2 linked regions of the Homo sapiens genome follow. The protein of the gene in region 2 interacts with the protein of the main gene of each other region in a pairwise test. Each region holds a gene or a part of one and is shown on either strand. Other genes may lie near its edges.

Evidence for each region.
Region 1: the proteins of FRMD1 (region 2) and RAB2A interact in binary tests that used the Homo sapiens proteins (3 or more experiments, as listed by UniProt).

Annotation. Positions count from the first base shown.
Region 1 is NC_000008.11:60,519,785-60,527,994, reverse strand, and holds part of RAB2A (ras-related protein Rab-2A), read right to left. Parts: intron 1-8,210.
Region 2 is NC_000006.12:168,061,320-168,069,529, forward strand, and holds part of FRMD1 (FERM domain-containing protein 1), read right to left. Parts: intron 6,205-8,210; exon of another isoform or gene 6,168-6,204; coding exon of another isoform or gene 6,128-6,167; coding exon 6,048-6,127; intron 5,811-6,047; exon of another isoform or gene 5,513-5,810; coding exon 5,436-5,512; intron 5,016-5,435; exon of another isoform or gene 3,739-5,015; coding exon 3,552-3,738; intron 2,438-3,551; coding exon 2,282-2,437; intron 1,641-2,281; coding exon 1,575-1,640; intron 1,421-1,574; coding exon of another isoform or gene 1,352-1,420; intron 663-1,351; coding exon 488-662; intron 1-487.

The sequences.
Region 1 (8,210 bases), on a different chromosome or scaffold from region 2:
TTCCATATTGGTCAGTTACTAGCTGTATACAAAAAGACTGTATGTGATAACCAGTGTCCCTTTCCTCACCTATAAAATGGTGTCTTCCTCATAGATTCAATGAGTTATGCCTCTAGAGAAAATGCCCTATAAAAGCAGTTGTATATTTACACTCGCTATACTGTATTATTTTTAAGAGGAATCAGAAGCAAAGCTTCTTTCAAGATTCTCAATGTCAGCAGTTACTAAGTATATACATGAACATACTTCAAAAAAAAAATAATGGATACTATGATTAGGGTAAATGAGCAGGGTTGTCTTTTTGCACTGGTTAGTGCTAAATTCAGTGACCACTTCAAAGAAGTCTACACCACCTCATATCATAGACTTTGAGTATAAATGTCCTGATATGGTTTGGCTCTGTGTCCCCATGAAAATCTCATCTGGAATTGTAATCCCCACATGCTAGGGGAGTGGCCAATCTGGTTGTTTAATAAGGCATGGCCCTTCCTCCATTGTCCCTCTCCTGCCGCCTTGTGAAGAAGGTGCCTGCTTCCCCTTTGCCTTCTGCCATGATTGTAATTTTCCTGAGGCCTCTCCAGCTCTCCAGAACTGTGAGTCAATTAAACCTCTTCTGATCTTATTTTACTGTTTCTACCATTTGCTCCTTAGCCCTTGAAATTGTCTGGCTCTGTGTCTCCACCCAAATCTCACATCAAATTGTAATTTCCAATGTTGGGGGAGGGGCCTGGTGGGAGCTGATTGGGTCACAGAGGTGGATTCCTCCCCTTGCTGTTCTCAGTGACAGTGAGTTCTCACGAGATCTGGTTGCTTAAAAGTGTGTAGCACTTCCCCCTTCACTCTCTCTTTCCTGGTCTGACATGGCTAGATGTGCTTGCTTCCCCTTCACCTTCTGCCATGATTATAAGTTTCCTAAGGCCTCCCAGCCATGCTTCCTTTACAGCCTGTGGAATTGTGAGTTAATTAAACCTCTTTTTCTTCATAAATTCCCCAGTCCCAAGTACTTCTTTTTTTTTTTTTTTTTTTGAGATGGAGTCTCGCACTGTCGCCCAGGCTGGAGTGCAATGGTGCCATCTCAGCTCACTGCAACCTCTCCCTCCCGGGTTCAAATGATGCTCTCATCTCAGCCTCCCAAGTAGCTGGGATTACAGGCGCATGCCGCCACGCCTGGCTAATTTTTTGTATTTTAGTAGAGATGGGGTTTCACCGTGTTGCCCAGGCTGGTCTCGAACTCCTCAGCGCAAGCAATCCACCCGCCTCAGCCTCCAAAGTGCTAGGATTACAGGCGTGAACCATCATGCCTGGCCTCAGGTAGTTCTTTATAGCAGTGTGAGAATGGACTAATGCAGGCCTTTATGGTAAGCGGAAAAATGCCCTCCAAAAGATATTAACATCCTAATCCCCAGAACCTGTGAATATTTTACCCTAGCATGGCAAAGGGGATTTTGTAGATTTGATTAAGATTAGACCTTGAGATGGGGAGATTAGCATGTATTATCCAGGTAAGCCCAATCTAATCACATGAGTCCTTAAAAGTGGAAAACCTTTCCTAAAACAGAGAGACTTGGGATGGCCCAACAAGAAAGATGAGACACAAGAAGGACGTGACCCACTGTTGTTGGTTGTGAAGATGGAGGAAGGGGGCCATGGGCCAAGGGATGTGGGTAGGTGGGTGGACTCTAGAAGTCGGGAAAAGCTCTCAGATGATAGCCAGGAAGGAAACGGGGTCTCAGCCCTACAGTTTCATGGAAGTATATTCTGCCAACAACCTGAATGAGCCAGGTAGCTGAATGAGCTAGAAGGGAACCCAGTCCTGTTGAAACCTGGATTTCATCCCAGTGACACGTTAGACTTCTGAACTATAGAACCGTAAGATAAATTCATGTTGTTTCAGTTGCTAAGTTTCTGGTAGTTTGTTATGCTAGCAACAGAAAACTTATATATATATATATATATATATATATATATATATATGTACACACACACATATATACATATAGACATATATACATATAGACATATAGACATATATATACATATATACATATATAGACATATATATATATCTTTATTCTCTCATTTACATTAAAAAAACTAAAAAATATATATATATAAGTGCCCTTAAATCCTGTTTTGAAACAAGGAGGAATAAATTGGTCAATGCATGCAGCCTACCCAGCAGAACCTACCTAGCACACATTCATTATTTACTGAAGCACTAACTCTAACTCTGTACCAGGCACCATCCTTCCTTTAAGGAGCTGGCTACAGCATGCTGCTATCAATATTCATTTTCTCCCTTAGATTTGGCTAAAAACACAGTGACTCTCAGCTATACCTGAAAATGAGAATATTTTAAAGTGAGAACTGGGAGAAACCTAAAGCTACATTATGGCTATGAAAAGTAAAAACTCAGAAGATATGGGGAAAGAAAGAGCAAAGGGGAATGGAGCCAGACCACCCTGTAATCAAGAGAATGGCCCGTGGAGTCAGACACCCCTAGATCTTTGTTCTACCACTGTATTCGTTCGTTTTCACACTGCTATAAAGATACTACCCGAGACTGGGTAATTTATAAAGAGGCTTAATTGACTCACAGTTCTGCATGGCTGGGGAGGCCTCAGAAAACTTATAATCATGGCAGAAGGGGAAGCAGGCACATATTACGTGGCGGCAGGAGAAAAACAGAGTATGAATGAGGAACTGTCAAACACTTATAAAACCATCAGATCTCATGAGCACTCACTATCACCAGATCAGCATGGGGGAAACTGACCCCATGATCCAATCACCTTCCATGGGATCCCTCCCTCAACACGTGGGGACTACAGAAATTAAAATTTGAGATGAGATTCGAGTGGGACACAGAGCCAAACCAGATCAACCATCTACTAAGATAATTTGCCCCAAATGACACAACTCAGTTTCTCCATCTGTAAAACAGTAATCTCATGTATCTGTTGAAGAATTAACAGATAATAAGCTTTTGATATGGTGTAGGAACTATAAAAAGTGTGGAGGATTACTCATGAGAATCTGCTATACAGACCACAATGCCAAAAGCTAATGTGATGGAGAATTCCATACAAATTCAGTCTGGCTACACCTTAGGGATTAAATAAAATCCCCCAAAGCAGAAAACTTGGCAGCAGAAAAAGAAGAATCAATTTTAGAAAAATAAGCAAAAAAGGCCCATGGCTTACCAGCAGTGGAATGTTACAGTACTACCATCAATACAAACAATACTTTTTAAAAATACTGATGTCTGGGACTCCCCGGAGAGTGACTAAAACAGCATTTCCATGGATGAGAACCAAATATTAATAGTTTGAGTTAAGAAACACTGCAGAAATTAAAAGGGGGCTACTATGTGTGCATTACAGGAGAGAGAATCTAGAACCTTTTTGCCAGGGATCTCTTACTTACAAGTGAAAAGTAACAGCTAAAACTAGAGTATTTTAAAACTTGCAAATAATCAAGGCTAATGAAATCAAATGGGACAGTTTCTTTTAGAAAATGTAAAGTTAGGAGAGGGACAAGAGAGGTCTGCATATGGCTGCATCTTTTGTAGCAAAGGACACAGCCTCATAGACTAAAGTGAGCAGAGAATAACAAATGAAGTAAGCACAGCTGGGCCAGAAGGAAAGGGAAAAACAGCTGAGATGGCAAAATTAGGGTCTGCTCAAATAAAACATCAAACTGACTGGCTACTGCAAGAGGAGGAGAGCTGAAGAATTAAAATGAAGGAGGGAAGCAGTTGGGGAGATAAAAGAGAAACTTTCATGCTGGACAGGAATGGCATGGGACAGAAAGGACAGAACACCAATTGAGAAGATGAGTAGGGAGAGTCACCAGAGGAGTTTAAGAAAGGTAAAAAGGAATGAGAACAACAGGGACAATAGCCTCTATGATTCACTATAAAGTCTCAGGCACGGTATAAATATTAGGGGGAGGAAGTAGTAAATAAACTGGGTTAGAAAACAGACAGAAAAGAGCTAGTCAAAAATCCTGAAAGACTACCAATAATATATATAAAGCAAAAATTTGGAGGCCGAGGCAGGCGGATCACGAGGTCAGGAGATCGAGACTATCCTGGCTAACATGGTGAAACCCCGTCTCTACTAAAAACACAAAAAATTAGCCAGGCATGGTCATGGGCGCCTGTAGTCCCAGCTACTTGGGAGGCTGAGGCAGGAGAATGGTGTGAACCCGGGAGACGGAGCTTGCAGTGAGCCGAGATCGCGCCACTGCACTCTAGCCTGGGCGACAAAGCGAGACTTGTCTCAAAAAAAAAAAAAAAAATGAAGGTTAACAAAAGTATATCATCTAAATTGTAAATGATGTTAAAAGATATGTTTCAGCTCTCATTTGATAAATGAAACAGCTAAGCACATCTAAAAATGGGCAAAACTAAATAATACAGTTTAGGAATCCATAAGTGATACAACTATGAAGAAAAGCAGGGGAGGATTAATATAAAATTCAGGCCAGTGGAAAACTGGTTGAGAAAGAGACATATGTAAGAATGTGGAGTCCTTGGCCGGGCGTGGTGGCTCATGCCTGTAATCCCAGCATTTTGGGAGGCAGAGGCGGGCGGATCACGAGGTCAGGAGATCAAGACAATCCTGGCTAACACAGTGAAAGCCCGTCTTCACTAAAAATACAAAAAATTAGCCGGGCGTGGTGGCGGGCGCCTGTAGTCCCAGCTATTCGGGAGGCTGAGGCAGGAGAATGGCGTGAATCCAGGAGGCAGAAGTTGCAGTGAGCTGAGATTGCGCCACTGCACTCCAGCCTGGGTGACAGCGAGACTGTCTCAAGAAAAAAAAAAAAAGAAAAAGAATGTGGAGTCCTTTTGCATGGGTGTTTATCATTATTCTTTAAAACTATTAAACTGTGTATATGTATTTTATATATTCTTTTATATGCATGCTACATCTCAATAAAAAAGCTTTAATAGAATTTTTCTACCTCTGAACTTCCCAGGTTGTTTTTTGAAGGTAATTCTAACAAATCTGCTTATATAATAAAATAAAATGACTAGTACTTCTGGCCGCAGGTTTTGCAACATTCAGCTCCACCTCAAATCTAGTCAATCAAAATCTCTAGGGGTTGGGCTGCTGAATATTTTTTTTTTTAAACAAACACTCCAGTGATTCACAAGAATCTAAAGAAACTCAAATTTGAGTCTCCCACAGGAAGAGGTCTTCCTTCTGTTTTTCTCTAGAGCTATTGAGAATCTAATCCCCTTCCTTCCCCAATCCTTCCCCAAATCCTCTACAACTTTGCTCCTTACCTCCCCTTCTCTTGTATTTAACCTTTCAACCTCAAGTCTCTCCTATCTTAAAATACAAACACACACTCACATTTATTCTTCAATAAAATAACCCATGCATGGTTCTACTTGTAACTTCCCAATAACTCTTTTTGTAAAACCACCAATACTATGTGTGATATTGTTTAAATTTTTTTTTAAAAAAGAAAGTAGGAGGACCCTACAATATAAAAAGCCCCATTTCACCAACACCAACTCTTTCAGTGTAATCAATATAAGCATATAATTCTACTCTCCTCCCCAGAAGTAACGGTTAAGTGTGTAGTCTTGGGACTTTTTTTATTTACACATATATAAAAATCCACAGTTTTTTAACAACATAAATGAAAATACACCTTAGTTCTCCCCCTCACTGACATCTGAATCAAACACTGTGTCAAAGCACTAATGTCTTCCTACCATTTCAACCAATAGTCCCTGACCTCTACTGCACATGACACTGGTAACCACTCCCTCTCTGGGATCTGCCTTCTCTGCAGATTCCATGACACTGTACTGCCCAGGTCTCTCTTGCTCTTTTGATTATTCCTTGTTAGCCTACTATGCTGATAACTTTCCCCATGTGCCCCATGAACACTAGTATTTCCCACCATTACATCCAAGCTTTCATCTGTCAATTCATTCAATGAACAATCACCACCTACTTCATTCCAGGAGGACAACTTTGTCAGATCCCCATTTGTCAATGGTTTTGCATGTGAACCAATGCTCCAAATCACTTGCATCAAAGAAACAAATGCTGCCTTGCCGCGGTGGCTCACACCTGTAATCCCAGCACTTAAGGAGGCCGAGGTGAGTGGACCACCTGAGGTCAGGAGTTCGAGACCCAGTCAGACCAACATGGCAAAACTCCATCTCTACTAAAAATACAAAAATCAGCTGGGCGTGGGGGCAGACGCCTGTAATCCCAGCTACTGGGGAGGCTGAGGCAGGAGAATCGCTTGAACCTAAGAGGTGGAGGTTGCAGTGAACCCAGATGGCGCCACTGCACTCCAGCCTGGGTGACAAGAGCAAAACTCCATCTCAAAAAAAAGAAACAAATGCTTGCAATTTTAGCATGATACATAATTTCACTTTGCAACTAATTTGAACTATATTATGATCAGCAAGCCCCTACGCCAATCAGGAGGATGGGAATTAGAAGTAAGCTTGAGTAGTTAATTTTTTAAGGTGATAACTTATTAATAATTATTTTCATATCATGAGAATTTTTCTTCCCTACATAACCTTGTAATTTCAAAAGCTCAGAAAATGAACTCTCAGGTAATAGGGACTCCATTTTATGTTATTAGCTCCCAAGTCTCTATCCCAGATTACTCTCTCCTGAGCCAGAAATAAACTTTCAACTACATACCAGACATTCCCCCATGCCCACTCTGGCGGTGCCTACTCATCATTCTAATTTCAGCTGAAACATCACCTAGTGCCTCCCCTCAAGGATCCATCCACTTAACTATTAAATAAATCTGACACTCAATGGTGTACCCTGGCATCTAAGACAAAGGCAAAGACCTTCCTAACTAAAAAGATAATTTAAAATGCAAGTGGGGCTGAGAGCTGTGGCTTGTGCTTGTAATCTGGCACTTTGGGAGGCTGAAGTGGGAGGATGGCTTAAGCCCAGGAGTTTGAGACCAGCCTGAGCAACACAGTGAGAGCCCATCTCTACAAAAATTTAAAAATTAGCCAGGCATGGTGGCATGTGCCTGTGTTCCCAGCTACTTGGAAGACTTAGGTGGGAGGATTGCTTAGGCCCAGGAGACTGAAGCTGTAGTGAGTGAGCCGTGATAGTGCCACTGCACTCCTGCCTGGGCAACAGAGATCATGTCTCAATAGATAGATAAATAATATAAGTAAAATAAAATAAAATGGAAGTGGTGGGTATATACATAAGAGTGAAAAATAAAAAATAAAATGTAAGTGGGACTGGGACTGAAGAGAAGGGAAACAGAATGAGGGAAGAGAGGAGGGGACCAGCATAAAATGCAACAGGGAGTGGTAGGATTTGTTAAACTCTCAAAAGAATGGATAAAAAGGAGTTGGCCAGGTGACAAAAATTTTTGACATAACTTTTTTTGATAGGGAAGAACAAGAAGGAGTGCTTCAGATATTAGCAGAAATAAGAACACAACCAAACCTGTGCCTTTGTTTACCTTGCTGAGCGTTGAGCAGCAGGGAGGGTTAGTGATAAGGTTAAAATGGTTGGCAGATGCTAGAATTTCAGAAGAAAAATTACTATAGATTCGTATTTTTTCTCTCCATGCTTGATAATTAACTGCTTATTAAAAACCACTTTCCACTTTACATCTAGATTTAAATGACACATTTTACTAAATGATTCAGAAACAAGACAGGAACAAGGAAAAAATTTAAAGCTACATTTTAACTGCATTTAGTCTTACAGTAAGAAAACAGCTCAATAGTATCATCATGATCATGTAAAAGTTTTTAAAACCTCTTCTATTAAAGAGGGAATTCTGAAAAGGAAAAATGTGCATTGTTCCTTTCCTTTGAGAAATCAAAGTACTTTCACATTTATCCTCATTTTATCCCACATACTGAGAGAAGGTTATAGGTTACGGAAACAGGGAAACAGAAAAATTAGGTGATTTCCTTCATTCTAAGATGCATGTTTTTGACCCTGACTTTTTAAAAAATCAAAGTGGATCTCACATTACTGATTTTAAAGTCATCTTTTCTAGGGGAGGGCCACACTGAGTGTATCTTACAACTATGGGTACACTCTGCATTAAAGAAATATGGTAAAGGATTTTGCCCAAATTAGTAAGCAAGAAGGTGGCAGAACTGGGCAACAACAACAACAACAACGACACCACTTCTGTTAAGTTATTAATATATACAAACAGGAATATAGTAGCCT
Region 2 (8,210 bases):
AGACCAGGCCTGTGGGTAAACGCTGAGGCCAGGTCTTGTGCTCAGGTGAGGATGTGGAACAGGGAGGGAGGCCAGGCCTGTGGGTAAACACTAAGGCCAGGCCTTGTGCTCAGGTGAGGATGTGGAACAGGAAGGGAGACCAGGCCTGTGGGTAAACACTGAGGCCTTGTCGGAACCTGCATTTCTTGCTCTTTGTGGGCACATGATGGGAGGAGAAGTGGAAAACAGACCAGGAAACTGAGAAGTGGAAACCTCAGGTGGCTCCTCAAGCTCCCAGCTTCCCCCAGTCCCATCTATAGAATTCCACTCCAGGCAGAGCTGGGGGCCACCACTTCGCCCTTCGACCTCAGCATCTGGGGGACGTGGGAGTCAGGAGGCCACAACAATAAGAGACAGAAGGCATAGTCCGGCCAGAGCCCAGTGTGCCCAGCCTAGCCCAGAAGGCACAGTCCGGCTGCGGAGCCCAGCATACCCAGCCCAGCCCCACCTTCTGCCTCCTCCCGCTGCCGCAGCTGTTGCAGAGTGGGCCGCACGCGGAGGTGGAGCTGGTGGCTGGCGCGCAGCAGGTGCAGCAGGTGCCTGGACCGCCAGGTGCACCCCGTGTAGTAAACCAGCTTCTGTGCTGCGGGCAGCCCATCCAGCTGGATCTCCAGCTTCTTTCCCTGAGCAAACAGGAGAGAAGTTGCCACTCCACAGGTGGAAAACCACGCTAGCCACAGGAAAGGATGATTTTAAATGTCAGCCATGGCCCCCAGGGGGACGAGGCCCAGGTTTTCACTTCGCAGTGCAGATGGCTGTTGGCGGACACTGTGCGCGGACACTGTGCTCTGCTCCGCCCTTGCTTGAGAGGACACAGCCCTCCTGGCTAGAAAGTGCCCGCAGCAGTGTGAGGGGAGTGGAGGTCTGGGGTGGGACAGGAAGACCTCGGTCTGGCTGTCCAGAGCAAGCCTGCTGTCCAGCAGCCCCCACAGTCACTGCCCTTTTATCCCCGGCACCCGGGCTGTGGGGTGACCCTGGGTGACAGCTCTGGGGCCGGGATGAGAGGAACAGAGGCCACACAGGTGCGTTTCTATGACCTGCTCTTCTTTTCTCCCTTGATTTTCTCAATTGGGAGCCAGAAGTTTTCAAGCGATAACAACAACTAGACCTCACCGGGCAGCTAAACACCCCACGCCTGCAGGGCCAGGGCCAGGCACAAAGCCCGTGAGGCCAGGACGGCCCTGATGCCCCCGAGAGGCCGGCAGGAAGGGACCTGCACCTCTTCGGGTGCAGAATTGTCCAGAAAATGCCCCGAGGATGAAGCTGCATCTGCCCAGGCTTTCCAGGGCACGGGGACCCCCCAGACACCCACCAGAAATGCCAGCTTCCCAACGTGGGGCCAGGGGAGGTCGTACAGCAGCTGCGGAGCACGGTCCACCTCCTGCGGGACAGCAGAGGCAGGGCGCGTCCAGGCAGGGCCAGCCAGCGCCCATGACCGCTGCAGGGATGCTACACAGCCCAGACTCCAGTGGGGAAGGGAGGAGGGGGTGGGGGCAGGACGAGGGGCTCTGTGAGGCTGGAGCCCCTTCGGTCACCTGGTAGATGTGCACTCCCCTGAGGGCCAGTCCCAGGATCACGGTGGGACGACCTTCCTTCTTATCCTAGAGGACACAGGTCAGAGGTCAAGTTGCAGGCCTGGAGGTGCTGGGCCTCACTGATGGCAGAGTATGGTCAGTCTGGCTAGGGGCCGAGGGCTCCATGGACCAGGCTGAGCTCTGGGGCCCATTTACAGACAGTCTCATTCACTCCAGCATCAGATCAAAGGCATAGTTGTCATAGCACAAGCACTGCCTTTCATCATGCCAGATAAACACCAGCCACGACCTAAGAGAGCCTGGCCATGCCGGGCCCGGGGTCCTGGTCCCACTCAGCCACGGGGGCTCCATCCATCCCTGCCCTGGGGTCCTGGTCCCATCCCACTCTTAGCCACGGGGGCTCCATCCATCCCTGCCCCGGGGTCCTGGTCCCACTCTTAGCCACGGGGGCTCCATCCATCCCTGCCCTGGGGTCCTGACCACTCTTAGCCATGGGGGCTCCATCCGTCCCTGGCCTGGGGTCCTGATCCCACTCTTAGCCATGGGGGCTCCATCTATCCCTGCCCCGGGGTCCTGGTCCCACTCTTAGCCATGGGGGCTCCATCCATCCCTGCCCTGGGGTCCTGATCCCACTCAGCCATGGGGGCTCCGTGCATCCCTGGCCTGGAGTCAGAGTCCAGCCCATCGCTGGCCGCCCTGGGCTCGACCTTGTGCAGCCTGAAGAAGTGCACGGGCACGTCCTCCAGCCGGCAGGCCTCCTGGATGAAGCACAGCATGGCCTCCTTGGGGCTCAGGCCCTGGCGCTCACGGTGCAGGGTAGGCATGTGCCGGAGGATGTAGTCAATCCCCCTCTTGGTGATGATCTGAGGACAGAGCCGGGAGGTCAGCTCAGACCCCTGCTGGTCCCCCCTTCCTCCTTGCCAGCCCCCTGCTCCGAGAAGCTTCCCCAGACTCCCACAGCTGGTGCCAACCTCGGTGGGCAGGGCCAGGGCCTGGCTGCTGAGCCCAGAACCAGAGATGAAGTCTCAGTGCCCACTGTGGCCCTGGGCCCTGTCTGATTTCCTGTCCCCCTCGGGTCCTCCCCAAGGGGAATGGCAGCAGCCAGCCCTCCTCAGACGTCTGCAGGTGGGGACTCTACTCCCAACGAGCCCTGGCTCTTGGGAACCTGCCCAGTGAGGACCAGCTGGGGCCATCACCGGGACCGGGGTAAGAATCGCAGGGACGTGGAATCACTGAGGGTGGAAATGTGCTCAGAGGCCAAGGGCACGTGTGGCATCCACAGCACTGGGAGGAAGCCTGGCTGGGCCCCACCCTGACCTCAGCGACTGCCTCAGAGCAAAGGTGAGAAGGCCCCAAGGTGCACAGGATAGAGAGGTACACAGGGATGAGCGGTCAAGGAGAGAAACCTTAAAGTTCACCCGGAACAGGGCCTGCATCCCCGGGGTGACAGCCATCAATCCGCGCGGCCATCAGGCCAGACAGCGCCTGGGACTGGGCACACAGTGGTACAGCCCACGCCTCTCCATGGCCCTCCTCCCAGGGGGATGCCACTCCTTCCCTTACAGGTGAGGAAGCTGAGGCTCAGAGACTCCTACGGGTCCCAGGATACTTAGAGAGAAGCAGGAAGGTTCACAGCCACAAGGCCCGTGTGGGTCACATTCCACAGCCAGGCAGCCAAGGGGCTCAGAGAGGTGAAGCCAGAGTGCAAGGCCACACAGCTGGCTGGGTGCGTCAGGAGCACAGGCACCCACACCTGCCTGCTCAGGGCCACTCCTCCCACACTGCCTGCCTTTGGGGGTGGTAAGGACCCTTGGGCCTTCAGGACAGAAGGACAGGTGATTGCCCTGTTTCCATCCCTGACCCTTGCTCCAGCAGCCCCTGCCAGGCCCTCAGTCCCCTGCTCCCATGGATGGCACCCGGTGGAGGTGGACAGGCACCAGACTAGCAGTGCTGGGAGGAGGTGGGCCCTGACCTTACCCACTGTGGGAAGTAGGAGTGTGGCTCGAAGTACCTCCCGGCATGGGCCGACTCCCGGTGCTCGCCCAGGTCAGCCTGCAGCGCGCAGGCAGCCAGCAGGAAGTAGGCTTCCTCCCGGTGAGCGCACTGTGACCTCAGCACGCGCTCCTTCAAGTGGCAGTAGTACAGGTGCCGTGCCCTGTGGTCGCTGGAAGGTGGCAGGGAGTGAGTTCCAGGACGACCGGTGTGGGGACTGCTGGCCCCTCTGGCCCTGCCTTGTCCCTCCCCACACCAGCTCCCAGGGCTGTCCTGAGCCCCTGGTACCTAGTTCCTGTCTTGTTATACCCACAGCTGTGTCCCTGCAGGGCCAGCACGGCACAGGCCCACACTCTTCCTGGAGCGGGGCACAGGTGACTTGCTGCCACCAAGGAGCCACTAGATGAGGCTCCACCTGCCGAGGTCCCACTCCTTCCCCAGTGAGCTTGGCCTTCACCAAACCAAGCCCCAGTGCAGGAGAGGTGCACAGAGCCCGGGCGACTCGAATCCCTGGAGGTGCACAGGGCCTGGACAACTTGAATCCCTGGATGTGGACAGACCTGGCTCCCAGAGCTCACCGCCCAGCACGGGGCTTGGCCATGGCTGGTATTCATTAATCACAGGCCAGGTGGAGGCTCGCCCAAGATGCAGGTGCAAGATCTTCTCATATAATTCCCCCGAACTGGCCCCATAGCACCAGGTAGCTCCATCCATCAACCCAACACTTTCCAGACCTCCCCTCCAAGGCTATCCAGAACCTTCCACATATTCACACACCCCTCACTCTCCAGAACCTGCCACACAACCACATACCAGTGTCTCCAGGGCTCTCCACACAACCACACACCTTTCACTCTCCAGAACCCTCCCACACAACCACACGCCCCTCACCCCCTAGAACCTTCCACACAACCGCACACATGCCTTTTGGAACTGGCAGGGATTGTGCCTGCTTAGGGAATTCCTGGGAAACCCCCTTAGGTTTTCCCCCAGGGTAAACCCTGTTCACGCACCCCTGAAGCTCTGTTCTGGAAGTAAGTCTCAGGATCCTCCTGAGGGACGTCTTTGTTACCCTAGAAGCTCTAAGGCAGCTCTGGAAGAAGCAGCCCCCGTTGGTTTAGAGTGCAGCCCACCAGATGTACAACTTACCCACTCCTGTCGGGGAAAGCTTCCCACTAGACACCTGCAGAGTGGGCAGTGAACAGCGAGAACCGCCACGCAGCAAGCATAGCAGCCCTTAGCCCAGCGACCTCCAGAAGCCTCGCCCACCCCCGGATGGTATACCCACCCTAGAGAGTACGAGTCCTGGCATTTGAGGAAGTACCACTTTAGGCCGGGCACGGTGGCTCACACCTGTAATCCCAGCACTTTGGGAGGTCGAGGCGGGTGGATCACCTGAGGTCGGGAGTTTGAGACCAGCTTGACCAACACAGAGAAACCCCGTCTCTACTGAAAATACAAAATTAGCCAGGTGTGGTGGCGCCCGCCTGTAATCCCAGCTACTCTGGAGACTAAGGCAGAAGAATCGCTTGAACCCAGGAGGTGGAGGTTGCAGTGAGTCGAGATTGTGCCATTGCACTCCAGCCTGGGCGACAAGAGTGAAACTCCGTCTCAAAACAAAACAAAACAAAACAAAAAGAAAAAGAAAAGAAAAAGAAGTACCAATTTATGACACAGTCTGTATACCTTTCGATTAAATAGAATTCCTGTGTTAACCCCAAAGCAAACAGCCGATATAGTGGGGTTGTTTGTTTGTTTTTTGTTTTTGGATAAACTCAAATGTAATGTGTGGCCTTCAGGGGACTTCCACGTCATGCGGCAGATTTTCAGTATTCCAGGAAACACCCCTTACAGTCCGCATGCCGTTACCTTATGACCCTTCCGTTTTCCACGTAGTGCTGCACTCGGAGGAAGGCCACGAAGGGGGCTCTGGGTTTCTCATTTCCCTAGTGGGGAAAATGCAAGAAAGAGCAAGTGAGCCGCAGGGAGGTGCCGCTGGCTGTCCTGTCTTCCCAGTTGGGGGGGCCTGGATTGCTTCACACTCAGCTTAAAGTCGAAGCTCAGGTGTCTGCAGCCATAGCTGACAATTCGACTCATGGTATTTTCTACCCGGAGAACCCTGAGTGGGACGTGGTCTACAGCGTTCAAGAACATCTGCAAAGGCGGGCTTCGGGCGGGCACACCTGCTTGCAGCCTCAGGGCTCACCACAGTCCCCCTGCGGACAGCCCCTCTGGACGGAGCAGCTGCGTGGACAGAAGGCAGCACATTGGTCCAGCACAGTCCACCGCGGTGCCTGCCCTCTCCCACCCCACGCATCCCACCACTGTCCACCGTGGTGCCCTGCTCTCTCCCAACCCACGCATCCCCGCGGTCCCCCACAGCCCACCGCGGTGCCTGCTCTCTCCCACCCCACGTGTCCCCGTGGCCCAGCACAGCCCACCGCGGTGCCTGCCCTCTCCCACCCGACACTCTACACTTACTTCATTTCTTTCTTTCTTCCAATCTTTTGAGAAGTACTTGCTGAGCTTTTGCTCCAAATCCATAAATATATACTCATTGTCTGAAAGCAAAACAAAAGGCTTCATCAGAGCAGTCACCATGCTTCTCAGGTGTCACCGTGTGTTCAAAACTGAGTGTGGCTTGGAGAGAAGAGATGCACAGCTGAAAACTGTGCGTCTGCAGCTGACGCTGCATATGGGGCTTTCCTTGGCTGACAACGCAGAAAGCATCTTAACACACATGCAGGTGTCAAATGCTTGCTTACTAAAACAATGTTCCAACGTGTAGGAATATTACAAGCTGATATTCAAAACTGGCACATGCTCCGGGCACGCCCTTTGGGAAAGCAACTTAGCAACATGTATCCCTACCCTCTTCCTCTGCAACCCAGGCACCCCTCTCTCAGCTATGGAATGAGTCGTTTAAAAAATAGAGATGTCAGGGTTGGATGCGGTGGCTCAACCTCGTAATCTCAGCAATTTTGGAGGCCAAGGCAGGAGGATTGCTTGAGGCCAGGAATTCAAGACAAGCCTGGACAACATAATGAGACCTTGTCACCACAGGAAAAAAAAAAAAATTAGCTGGGTGTGGCGGTGCATGCCTGTAGTCCTAGCTACTCAGGGGGCTGAGGCAGGAAGATTGCTTGATCCTGGGAGTTCAAGGCTGCAGAAAGCTATGAACGTGCCACTGCACTCCAGTGTGGGTGATAAGAGTGTGACCCTGCCTCAAACAATCAAGCAATCAATCAATAAAAATAGAGATGTCTATAATCTAGTACCAACGTGATCAACTTCAAGTCAATGATCCCAGCTTTACCTGTTAACCTGGTTTCCCTGGAAACTATAAGAGACGCTTCTTTCTAAATTAGGTGTTTCTATATTTTAAAAATATTTACCAGCATGTGTTTTCTTTATGGCCTGGAAAAATTAAACAATTTTCCTAGAGAGGAAAATAAAGCCTAGAGAGACACCATTCCTGCTGCGACTTAAAGCAACGTACAATCCCTCCGTGTCTGCTGGGAACTGGTTCCAGGACTCCCCTCGGATATCAAAACCCGGGGATGGTGTAGAGTTTGCATGTACCCTATGCACATCCTCATGTACACTTTACATCATCTTGAGATTCCTTATAATACCTGATGCAATGTAAATGCTGTGGAAGTCTTTGTTGTACTGTGTTGTTAAGCTCATATTATTTTATTGTTGTACTATTTATTGTTATTATTTTGAGTATGTTCAACATGAGGTTAGTTAAATCCAAGGATGCGGAACCCGTGGATACAGAGCACAGTCTACTCTTATTTATATTAGAAAACCTGCAGTCCTGAGAATAAAAGCCACAGGGAAAAGTTAGTCCCTGATAAGGCAGTACTCCCTTACAGCCACCTGCATTACATATGAAGATACTCCATCCCCAAGTGCTAGCACATCTGCAGATAAATGAAGACACCAGTGAGGAAGACTTACCCACAGAGGCCTGCAGAAAGGGCATCACAGGGCCGGGTGCCTGGCTCAGCCCCTCTCTGCCCTGCCTGTCTTTCTAATCCTTAGTACCTGGCTCTTCTAGACGGCGTTAGACCCAGGGGGAGGCTCCAAGGTGTCACCAGCCCCAGTTTACTTTTGTGTCAGGGAGGATCAAACACTTGGCTCATCGGTAACAACCACAGCAACTCACTGCTTAGACACTGGGTGCCATGCTCTGTGTTAAAGACTCTGAACCAATCCCTACATCTTCAACCTGATGGCACTGTTATCTACCCCCATCTCACAGACAGGGAGGCCCAGACTTGCAGAGTCTAGGGGAGTCCCCACCCCACCCCATAACAGGCCAAGGACCCTCAGAGCCAGGGGTTAGCAAACCAGGGCCCCAGGCCAAACCCCAGCACCCACTCGCTCTTGTTAATAAAATCTTGTTGGTAGACAGCCACAATCATTCTATTACATCATGTCCATAGCTGCTTTCGTACTGCAAAGTCAAAATATTTACTATGTGGCCTTTTACAGAAAAAGTCTGCCAATGCCCGGTCTAAGCAAATGCCGAGTGAAAAGGTCTAGATCACCATTCTCTGGTCCTGACTCCCCCGAATTCACTATTTGGGTACTCGAGCTTGAACTCAGTGTTTGCAGCATGAGTGGCAGATGTTT